4 separate regions of the Homo sapiens genome follow, and regions 1, 2 and 4 are each linked to region 3. Evidence: fine-mapped expression QTL. A gene starts in region 3. Each other region holds a variant in brackets. All regions are shown on one strand. Distances are between the middles of the regions. Region 1 overlaps RECK (reversion inducing cysteine rich protein with kazal motifs). Region 2 overlaps RECK (reversion inducing cysteine rich protein with kazal motifs). Region 3 holds the start of RECK (reversion inducing cysteine rich protein with kazal motifs). Region 4 overlaps GLIPR2 (GLI pathogenesis related 2).

The links. PIP is the estimated chance that this variant, and not a neighbour inherited with it, causes the effect.
Region 1: its variant is the best candidate, but not a certain one, in a credible set for the expression of RECK in whole blood (INTERVAL, PIP 0.62).
Region 2: its variant is the best candidate, but not a certain one, in a credible set for the expression of RECK in whole blood (TOPMed, PIP 0.65).
Region 4: its variant is the best candidate, but not a certain one, in a credible set for the expression of RECK in whole blood (INTERVAL, PIP 0.51).

Annotation. Positions count from the first base shown.
Region 1 is chr9:36,077,376-36,082,375 of GRCh38, reverse strand. It overlaps RECK (reversion inducing cysteine rich protein with kazal motifs), which reads right to left. Exons shown (of 21, transcript NM_021111.3): 7 at 1,738-1,771. Among named protein-coding and RNA genes, the nearest start is that of RECK, 43 kb to the right of the region's middle. The variant C/A (reference allele first, on the strand shown) is at 2,657.
Region 2 is chr9:36,124,218-36,132,110 of GRCh38, reverse strand. RECK (reversion inducing cysteine rich protein with kazal motifs) reads right to left here. Exons shown (of 21, transcript NM_021111.3): 21 at 7,656-7,893. Among named protein-coding and RNA genes, the nearest start is that of GLIPR2, 8.6 kb to the left of the region's middle. The variant G/A (reference allele first, on the strand shown) is at 5,855.
Region 3 is chr9:36,031,905-36,039,483 of GRCh38, reverse strand. It overlaps RECK (reversion inducing cysteine rich protein with kazal motifs), which reads right to left and starts at 2,571. Exons shown (of 21, transcript NM_021111.3): 1 at 2,386-2,571. The coding sequence starts at 2,485. RefSeq lists silencers at 2,292-2,441, 2,452-2,651.
Region 4 is chr9:36,142,647-36,150,590 of GRCh38, reverse strand. It overlaps GLIPR2 (GLI pathogenesis related 2), which reads right to left. Exons shown (of 5, transcript NM_022343.4): 2 at 2,697-2,805; 3 at 1,941-2,044. Among named protein-coding and RNA genes, the nearest start is that of GLIPR2, 9.9 kb to the right of the region's middle. RefSeq lists enhancers at 1,616-1,695, 2,036-2,085. The variant C/T (reference allele first, on the strand shown) is at 3,673.

The DNA.
Region 1 (5,000 bases), 44 kb before region 3:
CCCATCTATACCTAAAATACAAAAATTAGCTGGGTGCAGTGGCATGTGCCTGTGGTCCCAACTACTAGGGAGGTTGAGGTAGAAGGATGGTTTGAGCCCAGGAGGCGGAGGTTGCAGTAAGCCAAGATCTCGCCACCACACTCTAGCCTCAGCAACACAGCCAAATCTTGTCTCAAAAAGAAAAAAGGAGAGAGAGAGAGAGAGAGAGAGAGAGAGAGAGAGAAAGCAGGGAGGAAATTCTTGATAATTATTAGGGATAGATATGGAGGAACCAGAATCAGGTTTCTGGTGAATTCCAAAGACCCATGAGCAGGGATTCTGGTGACTTCCAGAAATAATGATAATGATAATAATAAAGTCATAACCAAAGAAACTGAACTAGGACTGAACTGATATAGGACAAGTCTCAGTTTCCCAGACCAGGAAACTATTCCATACCTACTGTACCGCCTCTTTTAAACTTGCAACTACTACCAAACTTATTGTGTTTATTGCCAAAGAGTTCATTTTCTTCACAAAGAACAAATTTTTTTTTTTTTTTTTGAGACACAGTCTCACTCTGTCCCCTGGCTGGAGTGCAGTGGCGCGATCTTGGCTTACTGCAACCTCTGCCTCCTGGGTTCAAGCGATTCTCCTGCCTCAGCCTCTCTAGTAGCTGGGATTACAGGCACGTGCCACCATGCCCAGCTAATTTTTGTATTTTTAGTAGAGATGGGTTTTCACCATATTGGCCAGGCTGGTCTCAAACTCCTGACCTCAAGTGATCCACCTGTCTCTGCCTCGCAAAGTGCTGGGGTTACAGGCATGAGCCACAGCGCCTGGCCAAAGAACAATGATTAATGGCTGCATTTATCACTGTAAACCTCAGTGAGGATACATTGGGGGTGGTGGTGGGGAATGGTGAGGACATATAAGAACAGACACATAGGAACAGGACAAGATGCCTATCTTCTGATTCCTCCATTCAGCTGGCTTTTTCACCAGTGTGGGAGGACATAAGATTACATGCCTGAGACTACCTGGAAAATCTTGAACTAAGCCTCAGTTAGAAAGGATAGAAGATAAATTACAGACAGCAAATGTTTCTTATTATCCTTCAATATACTTTCCTGCTGAGCTAAAGAACTCTTTGTTCCTTACATGTGTTTTCCCATGTCTGTCTGCTCTCACTGTTCCCTTCACCTGTAAGCCCTTCCTCCAATCTCCATTTCCTTCATTCTCCACTGTTCACATCTTACCCATCCTTCATGCCCGGGATCAGCTACCAACTCCATGAAGCCACCTCTAAGTACCCCTGCAGAATATGATCCCTTCTTTCTCTGAACTCCTGGAGCACTTTATCCAGTGACACTATCTCATATCCTACCATATCCCAGCATTCTTTGTGTACAGGTCGTGTCCTCCACAGATGTGTGTCTGCCCCACACTGACCAAGTACTCAATCAACGTCTGTTGAATGAACTGAGACGTAGCACTCGGCAAGTGCTACATTATATAGCATGGGTGTACTTAACTTCTGAAAATGGGCCTATTTATTGGGTTGTGATCATCCTCTAGCACACTGAGCTTTAGTATCTGCATTGTAGATCTACAGTTAAGACATGGGAATTGTTATAATACATGAATGACCTAAATACACCATGGGAAAGAGCCTATCGGAATCCTGCTGTGCACATTGCTTCAGATGGCTAATTATATCTTTGGACTGTTTGTACAACCATTGACAAATATACTTACTTTCATTTCTGCTAATGCAACTGAAAAGAGCATTCTGTAAATTGAAGAAAAACAAATAAACAGAAATTAACAACCAGAGAGAATTTGTAATTTAATTCCACTTTATGGTTACATGGAAATCATGATATTAAAACTATTTAATTCTTCCCTAAATCCAAGACTGAAAACACAGAAGTTATGAAATGATATTCTGGTAAAAAGGGAAACCATCTTCCAACATATATCAGGATCAAGATGACTACTTGGAGCCATAAGCTGACCAGTTATAGCAAACCAAGTTTATGTAAAGCTGTAAGTGTGTGGGAGGGGCTACAATGTATTAATCTTAATTATTCCTTGCAGGATATAAAAACTTTCCAGAAAATAATCTAATAAATGACATCTAGGGAAATATATATTTCATGTAACCACTGCATTTTAGATTTGAAAGGATTTTAGACATTATCTCTACTTGTTCTCAAACATGGCTGTACACTGGAATCATCTGAGTTTCCTAGACCTTACCCTAGACTACAGATTCAGAATCTAGGGGTGAGGCACAGAAATCTAAATTTTAAACAAGACTTGAAATACAGTTTTTTTATAGCCATCCTGGGACCAGAGTTTGGGAATCTATCATTTTACAGATGAAGAAACTGTTTCCTCAGCAGGGTAAAAGAGACCCGCCCCAGGTAATAGAAAAAGTCAAAAGCGAGTTTGAGACTATAATTAGTGTCTCTAGAGTGCTTAGATTATTGTTCAGAAAACACCACCCTGTATTAAAGTCAATGTAAAGAAAATAAAACCCAAAACAAGACAAAAATGAAAAACTTATACAAAGCCATTTGGATATTTAGGGCTTGTCAGCTATGAATAATAATCAATCACAATGGGAGGATAATTACTTCCTAAAAGAAATAATATGGGCATAAATTACAGG[C/A]AGAAGGAAATCAAGCACACCCTTATTGTTGAAACGAGACGATTTTGGCTTTTAATTGCAGCCATATTGCAAGCTGGCTAGGTGATGGGGATTTGTTAAAGGATCAGCTATTGGCATTTAAAACCTAGCTTCAAAGATCCCTCTATGTAGCTGTGTGAAGCTGTATTCATTCATTTTCTCTGCTAAATAATATTCCATTGTAGGAATATGCCACACTTGATTTAACAATTTAAAGCAAAATAAAACAGAAAACCCTGGGCCTCATAGATAAGGGTTCCTCAATTCACCCAGTATGAATTCTTTCTGCTAGAGACTCCATCAAGCAATATAACAGGAGTGAAAAAGTAAATATTCTTAGTGTTCATTAACAATGATCTTGTTTATATCTCTCTTCATTCATGTTTCCTTCTTTTAGTGTGACTTTTCAGTTATGCATTATAGATAACTCTCTATTTAAATGGATTCACTGGACTCAGGAACACTTTTAAAATGATCTAAATCAATATTAAAAAGTAGTCAGCTACCAGCTGGGCGAGGTGGCTCACACCTGTAATCCCAGCACTTTGGGAGGCCGAGGTGGGAGGATCACCTGAGGTCGGGAGTTCGAGACCAGCCTGAAAAACATGGAGAAACCCTGTCTCTACTGAAAATACAAAATTAGCCGGGCGTGGTGGTGCATGCCTGTAATCCTAGCTACTCAGGAGGCTGAGGCAAGAGAATCACTTGAACCTGGGAGGCGGAGGTTGCAGTGAGCCGAGATCATGCCACTACACTCCAGCCTGGGAAACAAGAGCGAAACTCTGTCTCAAAATAAATAAATAAATAAACAAATAAACAAACAAACAAATAATAAAATAAAATAAAATAAAGGTAGTCGGCTACCAACTTTCTAGCCCTCTTTGACTGGATGAATGCAATTCTCATTGCTCTTTTCCTTCTAATAAGATCTTTGTTCCCTTTGGTTTGGCTTTTTTTGACCTTGTACCTGAATAAATATGTTTGATAACTTGGTGGCTATCTTGGGTTGCATGGCCTGATTTTCTAGTATTTGATATTTTTCTAGTTATTTTTGAACTTTCCACAGAAGTGGTTTTCAACTAGGGGTGATTTTGCTTCCCATGGTACATTTGGCAGCGCCTGGAGACATTTTTGGTTATCACAACTGAGGGGTGGGGAGTGCTACTGGCATCTGGTGAGTAGAGGCCAGGCACACTGCTAAGCATCCTACACTGCACAGGACAGTCTCCCTCCCGCAAAAGATTATCCAGACCAAAATGCCAGTGGTGCCAAGACTGATAAACTCTGCTCTAGAGACTTATACATTTGTTCAACCTGGATGTTTAAAAAACTGACTTTACAAATAAATGTCACTGTGGTTCAGCCTGTGGATCACTTAGCTTCAGGGAGAGGTACTACTAAAGGAGATAAAACCTGCGAAATGTGAGAAATCATCTAGTCCAACTTCCTTATTTAATAGAAGTCAGAGGCCAAGGCCTAGAAAGGGGAAATACTTATGGACAATAGCTTTTACTCACAACAGGGGCTGGCAAACTATGGCACACAAGCCAAATCTTGCCTGCCACCTGTTTTTGGAAATAAAGTTTTTATTGGAAGACAGACATGCCCATTCAGTTACATACTTTTAAAATTTTAATTATTTTTTTCATTTACCTACTTTTTTAAATTAAAAAATTTTTTTTAAGACACAGGGTTTTGCTATGTTGCCCAGGTTGGCCTCCACTCTGCTGCCTCCCAAGTACCTGCGACTATGGGTGCATGCCGGCTTATTTAGATATTTTATATGGCTACCTCACGCTAAGCACACTTCTATGGCAAAGTTGAATAAACAGAGAGTGAATGATCTCCAAGCCTAAAATATTTGCTGTCTGGCCCCTTACAGAAAAAGTCTCCCAATACCTGAAGAAAAAGGAAAACGGCACAGTTGCTTCCCTTGATGTCACATCCAGAGTTCAGAGATGTTCTTCAAGCATCTCTTATTTCTCTTGATGTTCATTAATAGACCTTTTGTGCCTAAGTTTACCTGAATTTGTTGAACTAATCTTTTCTATTTTCACATGGCAGCATCATGTGAAAATTACCATTAACCACTAACACTTTAGTGTTAATACCATCTTGCCTCTTTACCCATTTTAAGGTTCAAAAGAATGTTCCTTCATTCCAGTATACCAGCATTTGATGAATAAATTCTGTTACACCTATCATGATTTAATAGACTGATCATATCTCCCTCTTTGATGAATGACTCCTAAATTTACTATATGTAACTCTATCTTTTTACCACTTTAATACTGCTGATTAGTCTGAGAGGGCTTAGGACATACAC
Region 2 (7,893 bases), 92 kb before region 3:
GGTTAGAAAATACATGGGATGCAGCCAAAGATGTACTTAGAGGAAAGTATACAGCATGAGAAATATGAACATCGGTTGTGAGTTAGACCTGGGCTCAAAATATCTTGCTCTGCTTTTCTTTTTCTTTTTTTGAGATGGAGTCTTGCTCTGTTGCCCAGGCTGAACTGCAGTGGTATGATCTCGGCTCACTGCAGCCTCTGCCTCCTGGGTTCAAGAAATTCTCCTGGCTCAGCCTCCTGAGTAGCTGGAATTACAGGCGTGCGCCACCATGCCCGGCTGATTTTTGTATTTTTAGTAGAGACAGAGTTTCACCATGTTGGCCAGGCTGGTCTCAAACTCCTGACCTCATGATCTGCCCTCCTCGGCCTCCCAAAGTGCTGGGATTATAGGCATAAGCCACTGCACCCGGCCTTGTATACCCTTCCTAAGAGGGGAATATTTGACTCTGTGCCCAGAGGGTTGAAACCTGTAAGGAAAGAAGATTCACCATCAAAGGACTGAGAAAAAAAGTACAGACAGTAACTTCTTATAACTTAATACTTCCTTGACTTGAAAATAAAGGGATTTTAATGAAAAACTCCCTCTTATTGGCCAGGCAGGATGGCTCATGCCTGTAATCCCAGTGCCATAGGAGTCCAAGGTGGGAGGATAGCTTGGGGCCAGGAATTCAAGAGCAGCCTGGACAACATGGCAAGACCCTATCTCTACAAAAAATTAAAAATAAATAGCTGGGTGTGGCGCACACACCTGTAGTCCCTGCTACTCAGGAGGCTGAAGTGGGAGGATGGCTTGAGCCCAGGAGCTCAAGGCTGCAGTGAATTCTGATCATGCTACTGTACTCCAGCCTGGGTAATGGAGTGAGACCCTGTCTTTAAAAAAAAAAAAAAAAATTAAGTCTCTCTCTTTTTTTTTTTTTTAATTTGAGATGGAGTCTTGCTTTGTTACCCAGGCTGGAGTGTGATGGCATGATTTTGGTTCACTGCAACCTCCGCCTACCTGGTTCAAGCTATTCTCCTGTCTCAGCCTCCTAGGTAGCTGGGATTACAGGTGCTTGCCACCATCCCAGGCTAATTTTTGTATTTTTCGTAGAGACAGGGTTTCATCATATTAGTCAAGCTGGTCTCAAATTCCTGACCTCAGGTGATCTACCTGTCTCGGCCTCCCAAAGTGCTGGGATTACAAGCATGAACCACTGGGCCCAGCCAAAAAGTCTTTTCTTATTGACATCTTTTTCTTAGAATTCTGAATCTTACATGCATTGACTTATAAAAATAGTCTATTACCTAATTTGGGGTCTGGAGGGAGAAGATTCTCCCCTGATGTCTGATTTAAAAATTTCCCTAAACTGTCCTGAAACATGAGAGTTAATTTTTTTAGTTAATTTTTTTTTTTTTTTTTTTTGAGATGGAGTCTTTCTCTGTCACCCAGGCTGGAGTGCAGTGGCACAGTCTCGACTCACTACAACCTCCGCCTCCCAGGTTCAAGTGATTCTCCTGCCTCAGTCTCTCGAGTAGCTGGGATTACAGACCTTACAGGCATGTGCCACCATGCTTGGCTAGTTTTTGTATATTTAGTAGAGACGGGGTTTCACCATGTTGGCCAGGCTGGTCTCAAACTCCTGACCTCAGGTGATCCACCTGCCTCAGCCTCCCAAAATGCTGGGATTACAGGTGTGAGCCGCTGTGCCCAGCCAGTTAGTAAATCTTAAATATTATTATATTACTTATTTAAAAAGAAAAGTAAAGCACTGAACTAAAGGAGCTAGACAACAAAAAATAAGTGAAAGGAAAGAAACATAAAGAAATAGTGAATGAATGCGGAAGTGTTTCAGGGTAAAATGTATTGATGTTTTCAACTTACTTCGGAATCCATAAAAAATTAAATGGATTCAACTTTGAAACACATAAAAGGTAAGATGGATGGACAGAAGAATACATGGATAAATATAAGCAAATACAGGAAAATGTTTCTATAATAAGATTGCTATAAGATGTTTAAAATTGACTAAAGCAGTTAATGTAGATAAAAACAAAAAATTATATAGTAGAAAACAGATAAAGAGCAAGATTGAAAAATATAACCTAGAGCTGGAAGACATATCAAATAGATATATCACTACAAAATCAAATGAATAAAGAAGTCTAAAAGAAGAGAAAACTCAAATGTACCACATTAGTAATAAAAAGGGGATGTAATCTTTTTTTAGAAGTGTTCAGAAAAAACATATAGACAACTGCTCACTAATAATTTTCCTTAATTGGGCAATTTTCTAAGAAAATACAAATTATTAATATTTAAGAAGAGGAACCAGGCTGGCCAATATGGGGAAACCCCGCCTCTACTAAAAATGCAAAAAATAGCTGGGCATGGTGGCATGCGCCTGCAAGTCCCAGCTACTCGGGAGGCTGAGTCAGAAGAATCGCTTGAACCCAGGAGGCGGAGCTTGCAGTGAGCCGAGATCGCGCCATTGCACCCAGCCTGGACAACAAGAGTAAAGCTCTGTCTCAAAAACACAACACAACAAAACAAAACAAAACACCCGCAAAAACAAAAATACAAAAAATTAGCCGGGCGTGGTAGCAAGCCCCTGTAGTCCCAGCTATTCGGGAGCCTGAGGCAGGAGAATCACTTGAACCCGGAAGGCGGAAGGTTACAGTGAGCCGAGATCACGGCCACTGCACTCCAGCCTGGGCGGCAGAGAGAGAAGACGTCTCAAAAATAAATGAAATAAAATAAAAACTAGCTGGGCATAGTGGCATGTGCTGATAGTCCCAGCTATTTGGAAGGCTGAAGCAGGAGGATTGCTTAAGCCCGGGAGTTGGAGGTTGCAGTAAGCCGTGATTGCACCACTGCACTCCAGTCGGGATGACAGAGTAAGACTGTCTCGGGGAGAAGAAAAAAAAAGAAATATATTCACAATATTAATAAGTCAAAGAAAAATATACTGTAAATGGATGCTGGAATATATTTGATACAATTGAGTATTTATTACTGAGTTTAAAAAAACTCTTACTTTTCCATAGCAGAATAAAAAGAAGTCCCTTGAAACTAACAGTAAAACATGTTACGCTTAAAGCAAACATGTCATGCTTCACAATAAAACAATGGAGACATCCCCATTAAAATCCAAAACACAACAAGGTTTCTTGCAGTCCCCACTGCTATTCAATATTGTTCTGGGAGTTCTAGCCAATACTAGAGCAACAAGAAGAAATAAGAGGTATCTTATCTCTTTGAAAAAGAAAGAGCAAAGTTTTCATTATGGCTTCTCCCTGGAAAAACCTCAGAAAATCCAATAAATATAAAGTAATATGAAATTTAAAATGACAGCCAGGGGGTCCAAAAAATTTTAAAAAATCAATTGCTTTATTACATAGTATCAATAACCAGTTGGACTATGTCATGGGGGAAACATTTACAATAGCAACCACAACAACGAGTTTCAAAATCACCCAATATGGGCTTATTTCACAAACACACGACCAAATCCGTTTTATCATGAGGACTCTCTGCTCTGCTCACACGTGGCCAGACTGGGCCATTGTAGGAAGAACATGAATACTCGCCATGAGGATGCGTGCCTGCTGTGGGGCAGCTTCCTGATGATGAAGAAGGTGAGCTGGATCCAGGCGTCCACCTTCCCCCTACTCCCCTCCTTTTGGGGCCAGAGCCCAGCCCTCCACTTCAGAGCCAGCAAATCCCGGGCAGAAGGAAGTTTCTGCAATAGCCTGCACTAGTGCACTGCAGTTCTGCTCTAGGCTTTTGGTCAGAAGAGTGCCAGCAAGAAGGGGGACAAGAAGGGGCATGGGGCCTGGACTGCTTTCTTGGGTTGCAGAGGGCTGACGAATTCTTAGGGAGCTGGGTGGAGGCACTGGCAAATGTGGGCTTGATAAAGGGCTGTGAGAGGAAGACAGAGAGGAATTGAGGAGGCTGAGCAAGGTCAGGAAGGAGCATTCAGCAGAACATGGTCCAAAGGGTTAAGCCGAGAGCCCTTTCTCCAAAATGAGTGGTGCAACCGACTGAGTGCTCTTCTTGGTGTCACCCTGGCCTGCTGTGCTGGGTATCTTCTTTTTGCTCCACTTCCTTCCTTATTTCCACTCTCTGCCCTGATCTCTGCCCCAGAAGGCTGACCTGTATGACTACCAGCACAGGCTGCCTGGTCCTTGGGTTTTCAACTGGGTTCCCAGTGGGAGCTGTGAGAGGAGACCCAAGGGAGAGAAGCAATGGCTTCTCCGTTAGGCTTAGGGGTTAGAGGTGCTAACAGCTCCACTTTGAGGCCTGGCGTGTTGTACTATGCCTTGTGGTTTCCCTACATCCTGCCCACACCTTTATAAATAGCCCCTTTATTAAACTTTCCTCCAATTAATCCTAATTTGGGTGGACCATTCGTTTTCCTGCTAGGACCCTGACCAACATAAATGGTTAGCCTTCTTCTTCTTCTTTTTTTTTTTTTTTTTTTTGGATGAGACAGGGTCTCACTCAGTTGCCCAGGCGGGAGTGCAGTGGCATGATCTTGGCTCACTGCAGCCTCAACCACCCTGGCTCAAACCATTCTCCCACCTCGGCCTCCCAAGTAGCTAGGACCACAGGGACATGCCACCATGCCTTTGTATTTTTTGTAGAGATGGGGTTTCGCCATGGTGCCTAGGCTTGTCTCGAACCCCTGAGCTCAAGTGATCTGCCTGCCTCAGCCTCCCAAAGTGCTGGGATTACAGGCATGAGCCATCGCGCCCTGCCTAAGTGGTTACACTTCTGTTTGGCAAAGCAACTGGTTGCATTTGCAGTAGAGTTCAGTGGGAGATTGGTCTGGAGAAGACAGAGGAGGTGGTCTTTAGGAAAAGACCCACCCCCTGATTACCTGGTGGGTGTTGGCCAAGATAGGGCTTCCACCTATGAACCTTTAGGCAAGGATGTACCGCCCAGTAGACAACATCCCAAATATGAAACCGTTTCCCTCAATTTCCCCGCACAGGGCAGTGAGGTAACCACCTCCTCCCCATTGCAGACAGAGGAGGTACCTTGCCCTGATTACAGAGAGAGATAGATATGTACAGAGAAGGCTCTAGAAGGATTCTGCACTTATTTGTAGAGGCAGGGAGAGGAAGGTATGGGATTTTTTTTCCTTTATTTATATTTCCAAGTACTTGGGGGAAGGTGCACACGTAACTTTTACAAGGAAAAAACAATACAGTGAACTTCATTTTGGAATAATGGAAAAGTGGGTGGAGCCAGGGGACAGAGTGTTCACCCTGTGAGGCTTCCTTCCCTACCCTCTCCACCATCAGCCTAATGCCCTGAGGCTGGGCTCTAGAATGAAACTCAACCTTAGACTTGGCATTTGCTCTCTGTGTGAGGCGTTTTGCTTTGGGCCGGGAGACAACATGGTGAAAAGCACTCCCTAAACTGCCCTAGAAAGTGAGCTGGCGAACTGTGTCAGTTACTTTTTATGATTCCTGATGCTCCTTGAACCTGTTTGCTCAGACCCACCCAGGCTCACCTGGCCTTGGAACTGTTTCACTCTGCTCACCTTCTGGCATCTACCTTCATGGCAACCTCCTTTATGGCCAGTTCCATTTCTGAGAAGTACAAATCCTGCCTGGCTGCCTTGTGCCAGGGAAAGCCTGGACCTGGCCTCTGGCCGTGGCTTCACCCTGACTCCCTGTGTAACCACAGCTTGGTCCCTGTACTCTTGGTTTCTCTCTGTGTGCACCGTGGAAATCTGCCCTCCAGCCCCAAGATTGCTGGACTGCTGGAAGGACTGGCTCATCCCTGGGAATGACGCCTCTGCCTTCACTTTCTCTCAGCTTGCAAAGTGCACAACTCAAGCCTCTTCTGCAGCTGGGAGGCAGGGAAG[G/A]AAAGGCCCCTGCAGCGGGGCCTCCTGTCCCTCTGAGAATTAGAGCACCCTCTGTGGGAGTGTGTGGGCCTGACTCCCATCAGCCCAAGGCTGAAAGAGAAGCATTGAATCAAACGAAGGAAAGTGCAGTTTCTTCAGTGACGATCAGTGTTCCTGGTGGGTTTAAGTTTCCTCCCACAGTGGAGCTGAAAGAGACCCTGGCTGAACTCTAAGGGTGGGGACCAGGCCTAAGGGAACCCTGGCCCCCAGCCTGCTCAGTTATTATTTCCTCAGGAGAGTCCAGGGTGCTCACAGGACAGAGGGAAGCACTGCCTAGTAACAAGATCAGTGGATGGTCTTGAAGGTCTCGTGGCACTGAAGTTTGGGGCACACAATCCTTTGCAGGCTAGAGCTATCCAGGCTGGTCAGTGTAGCTGGAAGGGCAAGGGCAGAGGCTTAGGATGCCACTGTGGCCTGGCATTCAAGCTGGGCACATCGGATCTGCCTTATACTTCCCCACACCACGCCCCTCACAACATGTCAGCCCTGCTGTTCTACCCCTGGAACGGACCTGGACTCTGTCGTTTCTGCACCTTTGCTCAAGCTGTACCTCCTACTTAGAATGCCTTTCTCAAAGCCATCTGGCAAAGTCTCCTGGTTTCTTCCAGGCCTGGTGCAAACCAACCCTCTTTTCGAGGGCTTGCGTCTTCCCCCTTGTTAGATGCTCCCTCCCCCAACTCACACCTCCCATGGCAGGTTGCCTGTACCATTTGATCACCTTCTCCAACCTGTCCTATTAAACGCCTTGCATTTTCTTTGAGATGGGTTCTTGCTATGTTGACCAGGCTGGAAACATCTACTTCTCTAATAAAAAATCTTGTCAGTCCTGGCTATTGTCCTAGCCTGATGAGAAAAGATGTCTATGGTAGACAGTGTTATTCAAAATACTTACTGTCCCTCCCCCAACACACACAAAACACCGTGGGAGGACTGTATGTCCCCACCCTTTGAACTCTGGAGTGGCCATGTGACTTGCTTTGGTTAGTAAAACGTAGAAAGAAATGACAGCATCACTTCCAAGCAGAGAATTCAGGGCCAGCTTGTGGTCCTCTATGTCTCTTTTCTGCCCTTTGTGAGGACGCTGGAATGGGTCTGGAGTGAAGATAGTATCAGGTGTGGCAGCTGACCCACAATGGACATGTGAAGGGAACAAAATAGAAGCCTCTGTTGTAAGCCACTGAAGTTTTGGGGACTTAGCCTAAGCTGATTGGTACCACTTCTCTGGTCCCATCAGCAGCCCTCCATCTCCATATTCCCATGGTCTCCCTGCCCCAGGTGTACCCTGGAACTGGAACATCAGGACCAGCACAGTGGGGAGAACTGCCTAGTATGCAGTCTTGGAAGGCCTGAAGCTCTCTCTGTCCTTAAGGCTGAAAGCTGGGGTCTTTGTATTTGACTCTCTGTCACTGCCTGCCCTCTGGTCTGACCAACTGTGTCCTAGCTGGCCTGTTCTCCCAGGGCCCTTGGCTTGGGATAATAGCACTCCATGACTTCTTTTTTTTTTTTTTGAGACAGGGTCTCACTCTGTCTCAGGTATGAGACAGGTTGGGGTACAGTGGTGTGATCTCAGCTCACTGTAACCTCCACCTCCCAGGTTCAAGCGATTCTCCAGCCTCAGCCTCCCAAGTAGATGGGACCACAGACATGTGCCACCATACCCGGCTAATTTCCATGACTTCTTATCCCCGAGCAAAGGACACAGCTCACCTAAGGGTGATCAGTGGTTTCCTTTTTGAATGTCAACATTGCTTAGAAGCATGCATGATCATATAAAAATTATTTTTATTAAAATAGAAAAGCTTTCCAGTATATTGCATTAAAGACATTTATACAGAAAAAAGGCAATTGCAACAAGCATGCTACATCAGCACTGACATATTCTGAAAGCTTTAAGTGCCCATTTTTCAGCAACATTTTGGTATAATACGCATATCCCTATGTATTTCAGAGGGTACATATAATACTGAAAAAATACTTCATGTAAAATCTAAGTTCATGTG
Region 3 (7,579 bases):
TAATAGAGGGGGTCAATAACCTGCAAAGCCTTATACCAGAGCAGACAGAAGTACCCAATCTTGGATGCGGTTAAGAAGGGAAGGAAGACTGAGCAGGAATACAAGCAAAGCCTTCACTGAAATACAATTTTATATTGTGTTCTTAATTCTGTTTAGGATTGAAAAGCATTTTCTATACTTTCTACAATTCACAGTGGAAGCCTTTGTCCATTATATTACTCAATGTCCTTTAGTAAGGAACCAGGCAATACATGCTTCCTAGAATTTAGTATAAGGAACATGTCTCACTTTTAGATCAAACTTGGAATTTTTTTTTTTTATCAAACAATGCAAACTATATGTTGTCATGAACTTTTAGAGCTTAGAAGGGCCTTTAGAAATCAACTAACCCAGCATTTTCTGAAGTGCGCTTTAGGTGTTATGAAGAAAAAAAGAATTTTATGAGCAAACAAGTTTCTTTCTTTAACAACTTTATTGAGCTACAATTTGTATACCATGAAATTAACCCTTTTAATATGTACAATTCAGTTGTTTTTAGTATATTCACAGAGTTGTGTAGCCATCACCACTATCTAATTTTAGAACATTTTCATTACTCCCAAAAGAAACTTCATACTCATTAGCAATCACTGCCATTCCCCCAGCAAAAAAGTTTCTTGTTTTTTTTTTTGTTGTTTGTTTGTTTGTTTTACCACAGGAATCCTTGGACCCTTTATTGTGAATCTAATGTGTTTTGTGAATTTATAAGACAGGGTACCATCTGCAGTATTTCCCGAACATACTTAATAGCTAATATTTCACTGCTTACTACGCTAAATGCTGGACATGTATTACCTCGATTCTCATAATAAAATCTGTGAGGTACCATTTATAATAAATGTGGCTATTTGAGCACAAAAAGATTAAAGCTAAGTAATTTGCTCAATGTTCTTAACCACTCCACTGTACTACCTCCTGCAGAACTGACTGGTTGTGGGAGGAGAATGGACAACTAGTATTTCATAATTTTGTAAGTGTTTCAGTTCAATCTCTTTTAATTTAACAGGGAGAAAAATGGGGCCCAGGAAAGTAATCTGATTTAGCCAAGAATACACAGCATTTTCTCTTTTATTCTTTGGGATAGTTTACAGCTAAATTTGAAACCTAGCTATAGTTAATACCCCTGTTGGAACTGACTTTGATTTTTTTTTGAGACAGGGTCTCACTTCCGAGGGCAGTGGCATATCACTGCAGCCTCAACTTCCCGGGGCTCGAGCAATCCTCGTATCTCAGCCTCGCGGGTAGCTGGAACAACAGGCATACACCACCATGCCCGGCTAATTTTTGTATTTTTAGTAGAAACGGGGTTTCACTATGTTAAGCAGGATGGCCTCGAACTCCTGGGCTCAAGGGATCCGCCCGCCTCCACCTCCCAAAGTGCTGGGATTACAGGGGAGAGCCTACCGCACCCGGCTGACTTTGCTTTTTTTTTTTTTTTTTTTAAGGTGTCTCTGCCTGTCTCCCTGTAAGCAATGCACTTCACCACTTTTGCATGCACACGTCCTAGCCATCTTTCAATGTCTAGTACAGCTAGGGGGAATCACTCCACTTTCCACTCATCCTAGGTCGATGTCCTCTCTCCCTCTGTGCACTCATACATGGCCCTTCATTTCCTCTGGACATTTCTGCCTTGAATTCGAGTTACTTCAATCTCCTGCTGTACCCCATCTCCTACCGAGAGAGCTTTTGGACGGAAGGAGTCGGCGTGCACTCAAAAGGCCAGCAAGCGGGAAGCAATCAATAAGCACTTAACAGTTTCCTATCCATCCTTGGTTTAGTTCTTGTAGAGCAAGAATTTCTCTCCTCAAGCCTGCCAGCCCCCGGGGGACAGGGTTTACTGATTTTTAATGTCTCCTGCCCGAGTCCAGGACCCACCACGCGGGCTGTGGGGACCGTCAGTGCTCACCGCCACCAAGGTCGTTATGAACCAAGTGCGGGTCAAGTAACAAGTAACAATAACTAACTAGGGCCGCGGTAGGGCGGCTGCGTATCCGAAATCCCATCTAAACCTCGCGACGATCCTGGGCGGGGGCATCGCACCCTTTTCTGACAAGCAGCAGAGGCAAGCGAAGGGGTCAGTGCCGAAGAGGGGGCCCGTGTCGGTGGGTGACAGACCAAGGCCTCAAACCCGAGTCACCGCCCAGAAGATCTTGGGGCGGAGAGAGTTCCTCACTCGCCCCGCCTCGGCACCAGCCTCTGGAGCGCTGAGACCTGGGGTCCCGGGGTCGCCGGACGTGGGCAGGGTCTGGGGGTCGCGCGCACCCCCGCCCCCTGCCCCGCGCCATCTTGGAGCGCTGTGGCGGCCGCTCCCGACAGCTTCGAACCGTTGCTCTGGAGGTTACTCACCCGCACTGCCCGGAGCCAGGCCCCCTGCCACCTCCGCGACCCCCGCCACGGCCAGCAGAAGGAGCAGCGCACCTCGCAGAGAGGCCCGGACGGTCGCCATGTCCGGGCCGGGCGGCTCCAGAGCCGCGGGATGCTCGGACCCAGCTTGGCCGCAGCCGCTGCCGCCGCTACCGCCGCCGCTCGCGCGAGGCCCCGCCCCCAGCGCCCGGCCCTTTGGTGACTGGCTGCGGCCCGCTCAAGCCCCGCCCCCTGCCTCACAGTGTTTCCAAAACCTCCCGGGGGCGGGAACGTGCCCCGTACCAGGGCTCTTTGTTATGGCCCAACTGTGTGTCGGCTTCTGCCAGGAGTCCACCAGCCCACGTTCTCCCAGAGTGAAGTCAGAGGATGTCAGAGCTGGGAGAGTCATTAGAAAACCTCTGCCACCTCCTGAGGTTTCGGGCCACTGAGGTGAGAGAGGAGACTGACCTTACTCAAGATCACACTGCAAGTTCACCTGAGAACAAGGGCTTAGTCCAAGGCCGAACCAAAGGGGCTTCTCTCCTTCATGTACCCTCAGTAATACTCGCAATATTCTTTCTGCCGAGACGCTGCCTCGCACCCAAAGAAAGCATGTCACCCGGGATCCTTCGGCCTCCCGCAGACACGGCCCCCTGACAAGGGTTCATCACTAGAGCTCTTTGGCACTATAGCCTCAATGTGTCTTTGTTGTACTTTAAAAATTATTTATTTATTTATTTAGGCAAGAGTCGCTCTGTCGCCCAAGCTGGGGTGCAGTGGCGCGATCTCGGCTCACTGCAACCTCCGCCTCCCGGGCTCAAGCGATCCTCCCACCTCAGCCTCCTGAATAGCTGGGACCACGGGCGCAGGTGACCACGCCTGGCTAATTTTTATATTTTTTTTGCAGAGAAGGGGTTTCACCATATTTCTCAAGCTGGTCTCGAACTCCTCGCCTCAAGCAATCCCCCAGCCTCCTCCTCCCAAAGTACGGGGATTGCAGGCGTGAGCCACTGTGCCTGGCCTTGATGTTACTATTAAGCACCTATTCCTGATAGGAAAAGAGGATAGGAGAACGCTTGTATACCTAGATGTGGAAAGCCTTGAATATCCGGCTGAGAAGTATAGACTTTGTCCAAGAGACAAGTTGGAAGTGGGTCCCACCCCACCCATCAGCCCAGCAGCTACGTGGAGAATGTTTAAGCCACTGGCTAGCAAAGCTAATTCATTGTCTCTTTTTTTCTCTGTGTGTTCCTGAATTAAACCCTTTTTCCTCCTTTTTTGAAAAAGCATGACCACCGTTTTAAATTCTCATGAAGACACCTGGGGCTAAATTACTTAAAACATTTTTAAAATTCCTTAATATTATTAAATATCCAGTCATTATTTACATTTTTCTTATTGTCTCATGATTTCTTTTTACAATTTTTCAAGTTCTAAACAAAATCCATATATTAAAGTTGGTTTTTATGTTTTTGGGCTCTTACATTTATCCTCTCTTTCGAGTTTACAAAAGGAAAACATGAATAAGTTAAAATATCTAAAACATCTCCTCTGATGACTCTGTTGCTTCTGTGTACAAGGTAAACTGAGGCACAATAAAATTTTAAAGTTTACTTCAGCACGCGGTGATTCATGAATTGAGAAGCTGCAAACCAGAAGTGGTTCTGGGGCTCAGCTCTGTCGAAGAAGCAGATTTTTACAGAGTGAATGGGAAAGTAATAAAAAGAAAATATTTGATTGGTTACAGTTATAAAGTTGCCTTATTTGGTCTATCCCACTAAAAAGCCTCTAGTTATACAAGTTTGTGGACTACTTCTGATTGGTTGAGCTTGTTCTGTTTTTCTTTAATATATGCATTTACAAGAAATAGCTCAGATTAACTCAAGTAAGTTTAAGGTCACTTATGAGGACTAAATTGACTATCTGCTCAGGAATTCTGCAGACCTGGTCTTCATTTTAATTTATTTTAACAATTCCCCTCTGAGAGTAATAGTACCACTATTGACACAGTCACTGGGCCAAAGAGTCATGATGCTATCATTATTAACAGTTGCGGCTGGGCGCAGTTGCTCATGCCTGTAATTCCAGCACTTTGGGAGGCCAAGGTGGGAGGATAACTTCAGCCCAGGAGTTTGAGGCCAGCCCAGGCAACGTTGTCAGACCCCCATCTCAATTAAAAGAAAAAAAAAAATAAGTAGTTACATTGGGATGTAGAATCACATGTAGGCTTTGGCAGTTGGGGTAAGTTCTTCAAGTTGTCTAATCCTGATGGCAATCATTTGATGTGTGGCTGCTGGAAAGCATTAAAACTCTTGACAGGGGCTGGGCGCGGTGGCTCATGCCTGTAATCCCAGCACTTTGGAAGGCCAAGGTGGGTGGATCATGAGGTCAGGAGTTCAAGACTAGCCTGGCCAACATGGTGAAACCCTGTATCTACTAAAAATACAAAAATTAGCCAGGTGTGGTGGCGCGTGCCTATAGTCCCAGCTACTCAGGAGGTTGAGGCAGGAGGTTGAGGCAAAGTAGACCTTATTTTTTAGAGCCGTTTTAAGTTGACAGCAAAACTGAGTGGAAAGTACAGAAGGTAGACAGTCCCTGCCCCCACATATGTAAACCTCCCCCCACTGTCAGCATCCTGCACCAGAATGGTACATTTGTTACAATTGATGAGCCTACATTGACACATCATCAACCAAAGTCCATAGTTCACATTAGGATTCACTCTTGGTGTTGTACATTCTGTGGGTTTAGACGAAGGTGTAATAACATGTATCTACTCTTATTTTTTTTATTTTTTAAGATGTAGCTATCAGAAAACTTAAAATTACACGTGTGAGCCCAAAGTGAACCACAAATGTAATTATGTTTTTCCTGAGACAGGGTGTCCTTCTGTTGCCCAGGATGGAGAGCAGTGGCACAGTCCTGGGGCACTGCAGCCTTGAACTCCTGGCCTGCAGTGATCCTCCCACCTCAGCTGCCTGAATAGCTGGAACTACAGGTGCATGCCATCATGCCCAGCTAATTATTTTATTTTATTTTTTGTAGAGATGTGGTCTTGCTATGTTTCCCATTCTGTTCTCAAACTCCTGGACTCAAGCAATGCTCCCGCCTCGGCCTCTCAAGCTGTTGAGACTACAGGCATGAGCCACCATGCCCAGCCCCAATATGCAATTTTAAGCACTGTAAGAGTAGTGTAATTATCTTTCATTCTAAAAAAAGGTTAATGCTTAGAGATGAGTACGATATTTTAAAGAATGTTACTCACCAATGATTTTGTTTTGAGCCAAAAAACCATGGTTCTCAAGGTCTTGCACCTTTCCTCCTCTTCTTCTATCTCTGACTTCAGTTCCTACTGTTTCTGTCGTGTCCAGCCATCACCTCCAGCCAATCTTGCTCAGGGCCTTTCCCTAACTGCTCCATGTAACTCCTGCCTCAGGACCTCTGTGCTTGGAGTTCTTTCTGCTTGGAATTAATTTCTCCCAGATAGTTGTACACTCTCCCTTTTCTTTTTTAGGTCTTAACTCAAACGGCCTTCCTTAATTGCCCTTCTTAAAATTAAAACTCAACCCCACCTCTGAACTTCTTCTCCCCTTTCACACTTTATATTTTCAAAAGCCATGATTACCTTCTACCATATTAATAGGTTCTAATATATAATATTATAAAATATACTACTTACTTTCCCAAAGTGTTGCTTGTTTATTATTTGTTTCCTTACTTCATGAGGGCAGATATTTTTGTCTGAGACTACAGACTATCCTTATTTCTTTTATACATACACACACACACACACACACAAACTTTTTTTTTTTTTTAAATGAGACAGGGTCTTGCTCTGTCACCCAGGCTGGAGTGCAGTGGCATGATCACAGTTCACTGAAGCCTCAACCTCCCAGGTTTAAGTGATCCTCTCGCCTCAGCCTCTTGAGTAGCTGGGACAACAGGTGTGTGCCACCATGCCCAGCTAATTTTTTTGATTTTTTGTAGAGACGAGGTCTCACTATGTTGCCCAGGCTGGTCTCGAACTCCTGGGCTCAAGTGATCTTTCTGTCTCGGCCTTCCAAAGTGCTGGGATTGTAGCTGTGAGCCACCATTCCTGGCCAAATATCCTCATTTCTTAATTGCTTCCTGCAGCAGAGCCTGAATCTGTTTCAGAAAGAGAAACTTTTAAAATTAAGAATATGGCAGATGTTTAAGTAGTTTTAATTAAATAGGAGTATTGTTTTTTAGAACTTTTGCATAGTAAATTTCTAAAGCCAATCTTTAATGGAAATACTTTTTCTGACTTTGTTTAGCCTGAACATATTTGATCATGATTAATTGACCTAGCTTAATAAGGAAGAGGTCCATTTTGAGTTAGTTAACTAAGACTTTATGGCATCTGATTTCATATGTGTACAGTAGGACAATTTTGTGAAATATTAATGTATTTTCTGTTCCCAGTAATTCCTTCATTAGAACTAAAACATGAGGGCAAGGCATTCACATCTTCAGAGATGATCATTAGAGTAGAAAAATAGTCAAAGAGGACAACTCCTAGCTTTTGGTTTTAAAAAACATACACTTAAAATTTCAGGCAGAGACAATGGCTTTAAAGAGAAAAAGCCTTTGAAATATCAGAACGTGGTCTATTTTATAGCTGAGAGCATAAAATATTTGTATGAAGAACAGACATGGAAGAATACTATGATTAGTCAGACACAGTCCCTCCTACCCCCTCAGTCCCCAGCAATTTGATTCACTCTGATGTGGAAGGAGGAGAGCCACTGGAGGAAAAGAAGGCGTCTCTGGTCTCCTTCTTCTGATGCAGTGGGGTGGGACATAGAATCCCCAGAAAGGCTTGAGACTACGAGATAAGAGGGGATCTGATTCTCCTTGCTGTGTGGAGCTCAGGAAATGACAGACCTCATAAAATTCATCTGCACTTAACACGATGTAGGTATAGAGTAGAAATGGCTGCAAATGTGTCCTGTTTCATGCTCCACACAGAAGAGCAGCCAAATGTTTTTTTGCCCCTCAAGAGATGCAAGGTAGGAGACAGCTGAGAGCCTGAAGCGACCTCAAGATTGGAATGAGGAGGCTGTATCTGTTATTTGAATCATCTGTACAAATGGATACCAGATGAGAATGCAGATGTCAACAGGGATTGATGATGATGACTGAGGACCACATGTCCTGTCTTCTTCTCCAGTCCCAG
Region 4 (7,944 bases), 110 kb before region 3:
CTGTGTAATCCTGGGCAAAGCCTTCCCTCTCTGGGCCTCTGTACAATGAAAAGGTTGAATGCAATGTACTGCAAGGGCCTTCTGATGATGCTCCGAGTTTCTAGGAGACTATACTGTCATCTCACCCCATTTGCAGCTCTTGAAACATCCATATTTGGAAAGACAATCAGGCTGGTAAGCCACGGATCTCCACTGTGGGCAGGAGGGACCTCACCTGGGGCATCCACTGTCCCCACACGTGTTGATATGGGCAGGCGTTTCCCTGGGAGCTGCTGCTCTCCGGGCCAGAGCCAGGAGCGGGGACCTCAGAGCAGTCAGTCTCAAATGTGTGCAAGAATCTTGTTAATGGGCAGATTCTGATTCAGTAGGTCTACAGAGGGACCTAGGATTCTGCATTTCTGCTTCCAGATGCTACTGCTGATCCATGTTCCACACATCAGCCTCACCTGGAGAGCATTTAACAAATACTAATGCCTGGGTCCTTCCTCAGACCAACTGTGTCTGTCTCTGGAGGAGAGACTCAGGCATTTTTTGTTTGTTTGTTTGGTTTGTTTTGTTTTCTGAGACGGAGTTTCGCTCTTGTTGCCCAAGCTGCAGTGCAATGGCGCGATCTCAGCTCACGGCAACCTCCACCTCCCAGGTTCAAGCGATTCTCCTGCCTCAGCCTCCCGAGTAGCTGGGATCACAGGCATGTGCCACCACGCCTGGCTAATTTTTCTATTTTTAGTACAGATGGGGTTTCTCCATGTTGGTCATTCTGGTCTCAAACTCCTGACCTCAGGTGATCCACCCACCTCGGCCTCCCAAAGTGCTGGGATTGCAGGCGTGAGCTACTGTGCCCAGCCTGGTATTTTTTTAAAGCTCCACAAAAGATTCCAATGTGCGACCAGAGTAGGGAAGCACTGTCTCAGAGACCACCTACCCAACCCCCTCTCTGTAGAGATGGGAAACTGGGGGCAGAGGAGGGAGGGACCTGCTCAAGGCTCCCGAGGGAGGCTGTGCGAGGCTGGAATGGACCATGTCTCCTGAACCTATGCCCTTCTCCCGGGGCCCATCGAGGGCCACAGCCTGGACTTGGGAAGGAGCCTGCAGGGTGAGGGCAAGGCCTTGGAGGGAGGGGTGGGTAGGGGGTTCCCCAGGAGTTCACACATGCCTCCCAGTGGGGGTGCCAAGGACCACGTTGCACAGGAGCCCTGGCTTAGGCTGTGCTGGGGAAACCAAGAGGACTTGGGGGATCTCCCAGGAATGTGAGGCTGGGGAGGGAGTGAGTCATTCTCCCACTGGTGTTTGGAGAAAGCTTCAGAGATCCAGACAGCTCTCCAATATTCTTCCTAAAAAGCCACATCAGGGCTGTCAGGGCCAGAGGGCCAGGAAGCTCAAGAATGTCTGGGCAGCATGGTGGGATCATTCCAGATCGAGACCTTGCATGGAGACATTGTCTTTTCCATTATTATTTTTTTTTCCAAAATGGAAAAAGCTCTATTGCTTTTCTCCTATTATAAAAGTAATACACCAGCACTACTGGTAGTGTATCACCAGTACGGTAAGAAAGTAAAATTTCTCGGGAAGAAAATAACATTTCTCAGTAGCTGGGGATGCTCTGGTGGACACAGAATCAGGCTGAGATTCTGTACAAAAGCGGTCTGTCTCCCCAACCCCCACTCCTCGGCCTGGGAGCTTCTCCGAAAGTGGGGGCCTGGTCAGTCTGACTCATCTCTGTGTCCCTGGCACCCAGCACAGGCCTGGCACTGAGCCAGCCATCAGAGACCTTGTGGTGAACTGAAGTCAGCCTGGGAGCAGATTCAGAGAGCTCTGGTTTTTCTTTCCTTTCCTGGGCCTGTGGCTACACCACGAGGGTGCTGGGGCCAGGAGGCATTTCAGGAGGACTTGTCCTTCTTCCAGCTCCCGCAGAGAGGAGAGGAGCTGAAAATGCGACCCACCTGTCTGATCATAGGATGCCCATGCAAGGTTCTCCCCACACTGGCCACGGCTGGACTCCGGGCTGTGCTTGAGGATCCTCGTGCTGGCCAGGGCCTCAGAATACCTGCAGAGTTCACAGCGCCTCCTCAGAGCAGGTGCAGTTCAGGGAACCCCCAAAGTATGTGCCCCAAGCTAGTGTGGCTGAGCTTCCTTCCCTGCCCCGGGCTCACAGAGGAGCACCACTCTTGCATGATTTCTGAGCCTCCCAGCAGTCCCATTCCACAGAGGAACAAGTCGAGGCTCAGGGGAACTAAAAGGACCTGCCCAGGTGAGTGAGAGAGTGGTTATTCAAGTGTGGTTATATCTGATCCCAAAACCCGGTCCCCAAAACCATGCAGGGCCCCCCAACGTTTTTTTTTTTTTGAGATGTTGTCTCACTCTGTCACCCAGGCTGGAGTGCAGTGGCGCAATCTTGGTTCACTGCAACCTCCACCTCCCGGGTTCAAGCAATTCTCCTGCCTCAGCCTCTCGAGTAGCTGGGACTACAGGCCCATGCCACCACACATGGCTAATTTTTGTATTTTTAGTGGAGACAAGGTTTCACCATATTGGCCAGGCCAGTCTTGAACTCCTGACCTCAGGTGATCCGCCCGCCTTGGCCTCTGAAAGTGCTGAAATTACAGGTGTGAGCCATCGTGCCTGGCCACAGGGCCCCTTTGTGACTGCAGTAGCAGCACATGAAGGGCCAAGTTACCCGGATGTGCTAGGGGACTCACTGTTGAGCCTCCCGGTTGAGGTTCTTGCAGAGCTTCAGTGGGGGGACGCCGTGCTTCTGCCGGTACTCATTGTGGGCCTTCAGGACCTCATTATGAAACTGTTTGGAAGCTGGAATGATTGCAAAATGGAGAATGGCTCAGTGCAGAGAAAACACTCATCAAAAGTATAATGGCATGCTGAAAGCAACACCCAGCTCAAACCTTAGGCCATGTGGACAGGCTGCTGCTCCCCTCCAACACCTGGCACCCCAGCCAAGTGGCCCTGCTCCACGCCACTGCTCACCCTACCTGGCATCGCGCTCCACATCTCTGCACATCTAAAGCCCGTGGATCATGTGGGGCCTTATGGGCCCTGTTAGGCATTTGGGTCTTTATCCAAGGCAATGGGAAGCCACTGAAAGGGAGCAGGGCAGTGAGCTCCATGTGTTTCTCAAAGACCTTGCTGGCTGCTGAGTGGAGGATGCACAGAAACACAGAGCAGATTTGGGGACCTGGACAGTCAGCAATAGGACTTTGGAAGTAAAATATCTGAAGGAGACCGGGTATCTCAGGCTGGACCTAGGGAGAGCAGAGGGGACTGGAATGGGCCAGAGCTGGGAGTCCAGAAAGAGGCCTCCTGGCTGGGGAGGAGGGCACCTATGCTGGGTGGGTGAAGCCAAGGAGACAGAGAGACAGACAAAGAGACGAGGGAAGGACAGCCCTGGGGAAGCAGAGTGTGAGGGCGAGTTTTAGGTGCTGACTTGACTGAATTAAGAAATACCTCGAGAATTGGTAAAGCATTATTTTGGGGTGTGTCTGTGAGAGTGTTTCCAGAGGAGACTGGTGTGTGAGTCTGAGTGGGGAAGATCTACTCTCAACGTGGGTGGGTGCCATCTAATCAGACAACCTGGGGACCCACACAGAAACCTACTGCAGGGGCAGAGCCACCGCAGAGTCCCCACTAGGACGGTGCCTAATGGAGCTGTAGAAGTGCAGC[C/T]GCCCCAAGACCCCAGAACTGTGGAGCTACCGGCATGTAACGCCCGCCTGGGAAGGCTGCAAGCACGAGGCTTCCACCCGAGAGCTGAAGCCGGACAGCCCTAAGCCATGGGGGTGGGGCTGCCTGAGGCCCTGGGGTCCAACTCCCACTCAGCATGCCCAGGAGGCAGGAGAGGGAATCAAAGAGGATTATTCTCCAGCCTTAAGATTGAATGTTTTCCCTACTGGGTTGTGCACTTACTTGGGACTGGTTACTTTCTTTCCTATTTCTCCCTTTTGGAATGAGAGTATCTATCCTATGCCTGTCCCACCAATGTATTTTGGAATAGATAACTTCTTTTGATTTCACAGGCTCACAGCTGGAAGGAATATGTCTCTGGGGGAATTGTGCCTTGACTCTCACCTGTATCTAATTTAGATGAGACTTTGGACTTTGAGTTGGTGCTGGAACAAGTTAAGACTTGGGGCTATTGGGATGGAGTGAATATATTTTGTAAGTGGGGAAGACATGAGTTTTGGGGAGCCAGGGGCAGAATGCTTTGGTTTGAACGTCCCCTCCAAAACTCATGCTAAAATTTAATTGTCAATGTAACCATGCGGAGGAGTGAGATCTTTAAGAGGTGATTAGAGGGCATTATCACAGGACTGGGCTCCTGGTAAAAGTATGAGTTTGGGCTGATCTTCTCCCCGTCTTGAGTGCTTACTTGCCCTTCTGCTCTTCCATGGGATAATGCAGCATGAGGGCCTCGCCAGATGCCAATGCCATGCTCTTGGACTTCCCAGCCTCCAGAACCGTGAGCCAAATAAACTGTTTTTTAATAAATTACCCAGTGTAATTTATAGCAGCAGAAAATGGACTAAGATGCAGAATAGGAGAAGAGTGTAGCAAAGAAAGTGGAGTTGGTGGGAGGGTGAGTGGTATGATCAGCAGGCCCAGGGCTGCAGTGGGGGAAAAGGTGAAGCCCATGCCCAATTAGGTCATGATCTCAGAAAGGGCAAAGTCAAGGAGGCTGTGGTTAGGGAGAGAATAAGTAGGTGAAGCCAAAAGCAAGCAAGATCAATAGTGAACAGAAGCCATACCAATTTGGATCTGAAATGATCCCCATCCATCCATCCATCCAACATCCTCGAACCATCCATCCATCCAACATCTTCCATTCATCTGTCCATCCACCATTCATCCAACATCATCTATACATCCATCCAACATCCTCCATCCATCCATCCAACATCCTCCCTCCATCTACCCACCCATCCACCTAATATCTTCCATACATCTATCCATGCAACATTGTCATCCATCTAACATTACTCATCCATCCAGCATCATTCATCCATACATCTACCATTCATCCAAGGTCCATCCATCTATCCTCCATTTAACTGTTCATCTGCTCTCTGAGTGCTTCCCCTGTGCCATGTCCCATATTGTGTGCTAAGGGTCCAGAGACAAGTCAGCCATGTGTTGCTCTCAAAGAGCTCCCATACGGAAGGGAGGCAGCCTTGTAAACAGACACTAGCCATGTGATAGGTGCCAAGATGCAGGTAAGCACAGGTGCAAAAGGAACTTGGAGATTAACCTAACATGGGATCAGGAAGGAGGCAACTCCCAATATGAGGCCCCAGAAATATCTGAACAGGGGCTAGCCAGCCAGGCTATGATGAAGACACTGAGCACCATACTCAGGAATCTGGGAGTTCCTTTCTCTGGAAATGGGGGTGAGTTGGATGAGTTCTGAGTGAGGGCCACAGAGGGCCCTTATGCTGAATTGGTCCCATCAGGCCACAGGCTTGTCCCTCAAAGACTGGCTGTGGGTAGTGGCAGGAAGGGTGTGAACCATAAAGGAAGTGCCACTCTCTTCCTCTGCCCCAGCTCACCTTCACTGGTGCCTTTCTTCTACTCTGCTGCCTTTCACCCGAGACTGAGGAGATGATGCAACAGGGAGTCCTAGTCCCTTTTCTCATAGCCAGATCTCCCATGTCTCCTGGGCCAAGTCAAATCCCATGGAATTTCTGAGGAGACGTGAGGGAAAGAAGACCCAGGGCTTGCCTTTGCGGGGTTTGGGGGCTGCAGACCCGGGAGCTACAGACCCAGAAGGTGAAGGTAACTGCAGGTCACACCTGCATGGTGGAGCTGTCCGTGGGCCTTCTGAGAAGGAGGAAGTAGACGCTTAGACAAAGAGTACGCGGCGCAAGCTCTAGAACTTGGGCTCAGTGAGGCTGTCCAGTGAGGTCCAGTCAGAGTAATGTGGGCAGGGCAGGGATATGGGGGCTCTGAACCCCAGGATTTGTGAGGTTTTGGTTGACAGGCAGAGGTGGGGAGACATGGAGGTGGAAACTGATCATGGGGACAGGCATTAAGGCAGAGGGCGGAGCTACAACCTGAAGTATCGGGACTTCCTGGCCAACAGACGGACCAAGCCCTTGTCAATAGGAAAAACAAAGATTTCAGGTCTACAGTGGAGAGGAGAAAAGGCAGAGGTGTTGTTTAACATGTATAGAGTTTCAGTTTTGCAACATGAAAAAGTTGTGGAGCTCTGTTGCATAGCAATGTAAATATACTTAACACTACAGAACTGTACACTTAAAAATGGTTAAGATAATACATTTTATGCTATGCATTTTTACCATGATAAACAAAAAGATTTCAGGGTTAGCATGGTAATGTGGTATTTGGGATAAGGAGTCAGAGAGGCTTTTAAAGAATATCTCACAGGGAAATGCCAGGGGCCATAGCAACTCATGGGACCCAGATGGGGGTCTCGTTGACCAGTTTAAGAAGGGTCAGCTGGGTAGCATGGCCTCCAGGAACCCATGGGTTCTTGGGCCACGGGCTGCTTCCCCAGCCTGGTCCCTGTTTTGTGCAAGAGGCAGTGGTGATTTGAGGTGTGTTGAGGCTGGAAGAGGGGTCTGATGAGGAATTGGTACAAGGATGGGGGATGTTCAGCCTGGAGAGGATCAGCCTCTGGAAGACACGGTGGAGGCCTCTGATGAATTCTGGGGCCCCAGAGGGGAAAGCTGGGGCCAGTGGGTAGAAAGGCAGGATGACAGATTTCAGCTCAGCCTAAGAAAGATCTTTCCTAGTCAAAGCTTTCTGGCGACCAAAAGGAGCTACCTCACAAGGTAGTGAGCTCTCTACCACTGAAGGAATTCAGGCAGGTGAGTCCCTCTTGGAGGGACTCAGGCCTGAGAGTCAGAGGACCTTCAAGTCCCTTCCAATCCTGAGATCCCATAAGGTCCTGCTGGGGTAGGAGTGAGAGGAGACAAGATGAACAACTGACCCAAGACGTGCAGGAGTTTCCCAAACAAGCTTCTCTCAGGAGACGCTGATCAGAACGAGTGTGAGTGTGCGGGAAAGGGCCCGTATAGGTGACACCGCAAAGGTGACGGGGGTCCCCATCTGAGTGGCAGGGTTGTCCAGGCCCATCCTAAAGTCCCTTCTAGCTCCCATGTCCCAGACAGGCCACGGTGGGTCTCGTGGGACACCACGGGAGATGCATGAGGCTGAGTGGCACGTGCAGTGGTGACCACAAATGCGTCAGGAAAGGAGGACTCCCTGGAGGAGGTGTTCCTGGCTCAGGAAGCATGAATGGAGGAGGCAACAGCACAGAAAGAGCCAGGATGAAGGGACCACGTGTATCCTGGGGCTCTGAAGAGGAGGGGGAGACAGAGGAGTAGGTGGCTTGCTAAGGGGAAGCCAGTTTAAAGGCAGCCTGAGTGCTGGAGTCAGTTTGCACTGGATCCCATAGTGCTGGAGGCCCTCAAGTCTCCTCGGCAGAGAGGGACATATAAGGCCGCTAAAAACTAGGTCACTGCACTCCCAGAATATGGGAAGTAAAAAGAAACAAAAGTGAAAGTTCCTGTGTCCAAGCAAAGCTCAATGCCCAGAAGCTGCAGCTAGGCACTGTGTCCGCCAACGCCAGGCTCCTGAGCCAGGGTTCTCTGGAAGGGGCCAGGAGGTCTTTCTGGTAATCGGTGGTGGGGGAGTCCTCTCTCCCCACTCCTGGCTGGGAGGCATAAGGGCCCCACAACCACACCTTGGGCAGCCCCAGGAGTCCCCTCCCACCAGGCAGCCAGTCCTAGCCCAGGTGGCTCCTCTGAGAGGGCCTGCCCCAGGGAGGCAAAGTTATCAGTAGCTGCCACACCTAGCAAGAAGCACACCCTACCCCCACCGAGAAAAACCCAAGAATACAGATAAAGAGGAGGAAGAAAAAGTCAAAGAAAAGTCGTCCATCTCCCAGTTAGGCAGGGAGAGCCCTCCCAGCCACCCTAC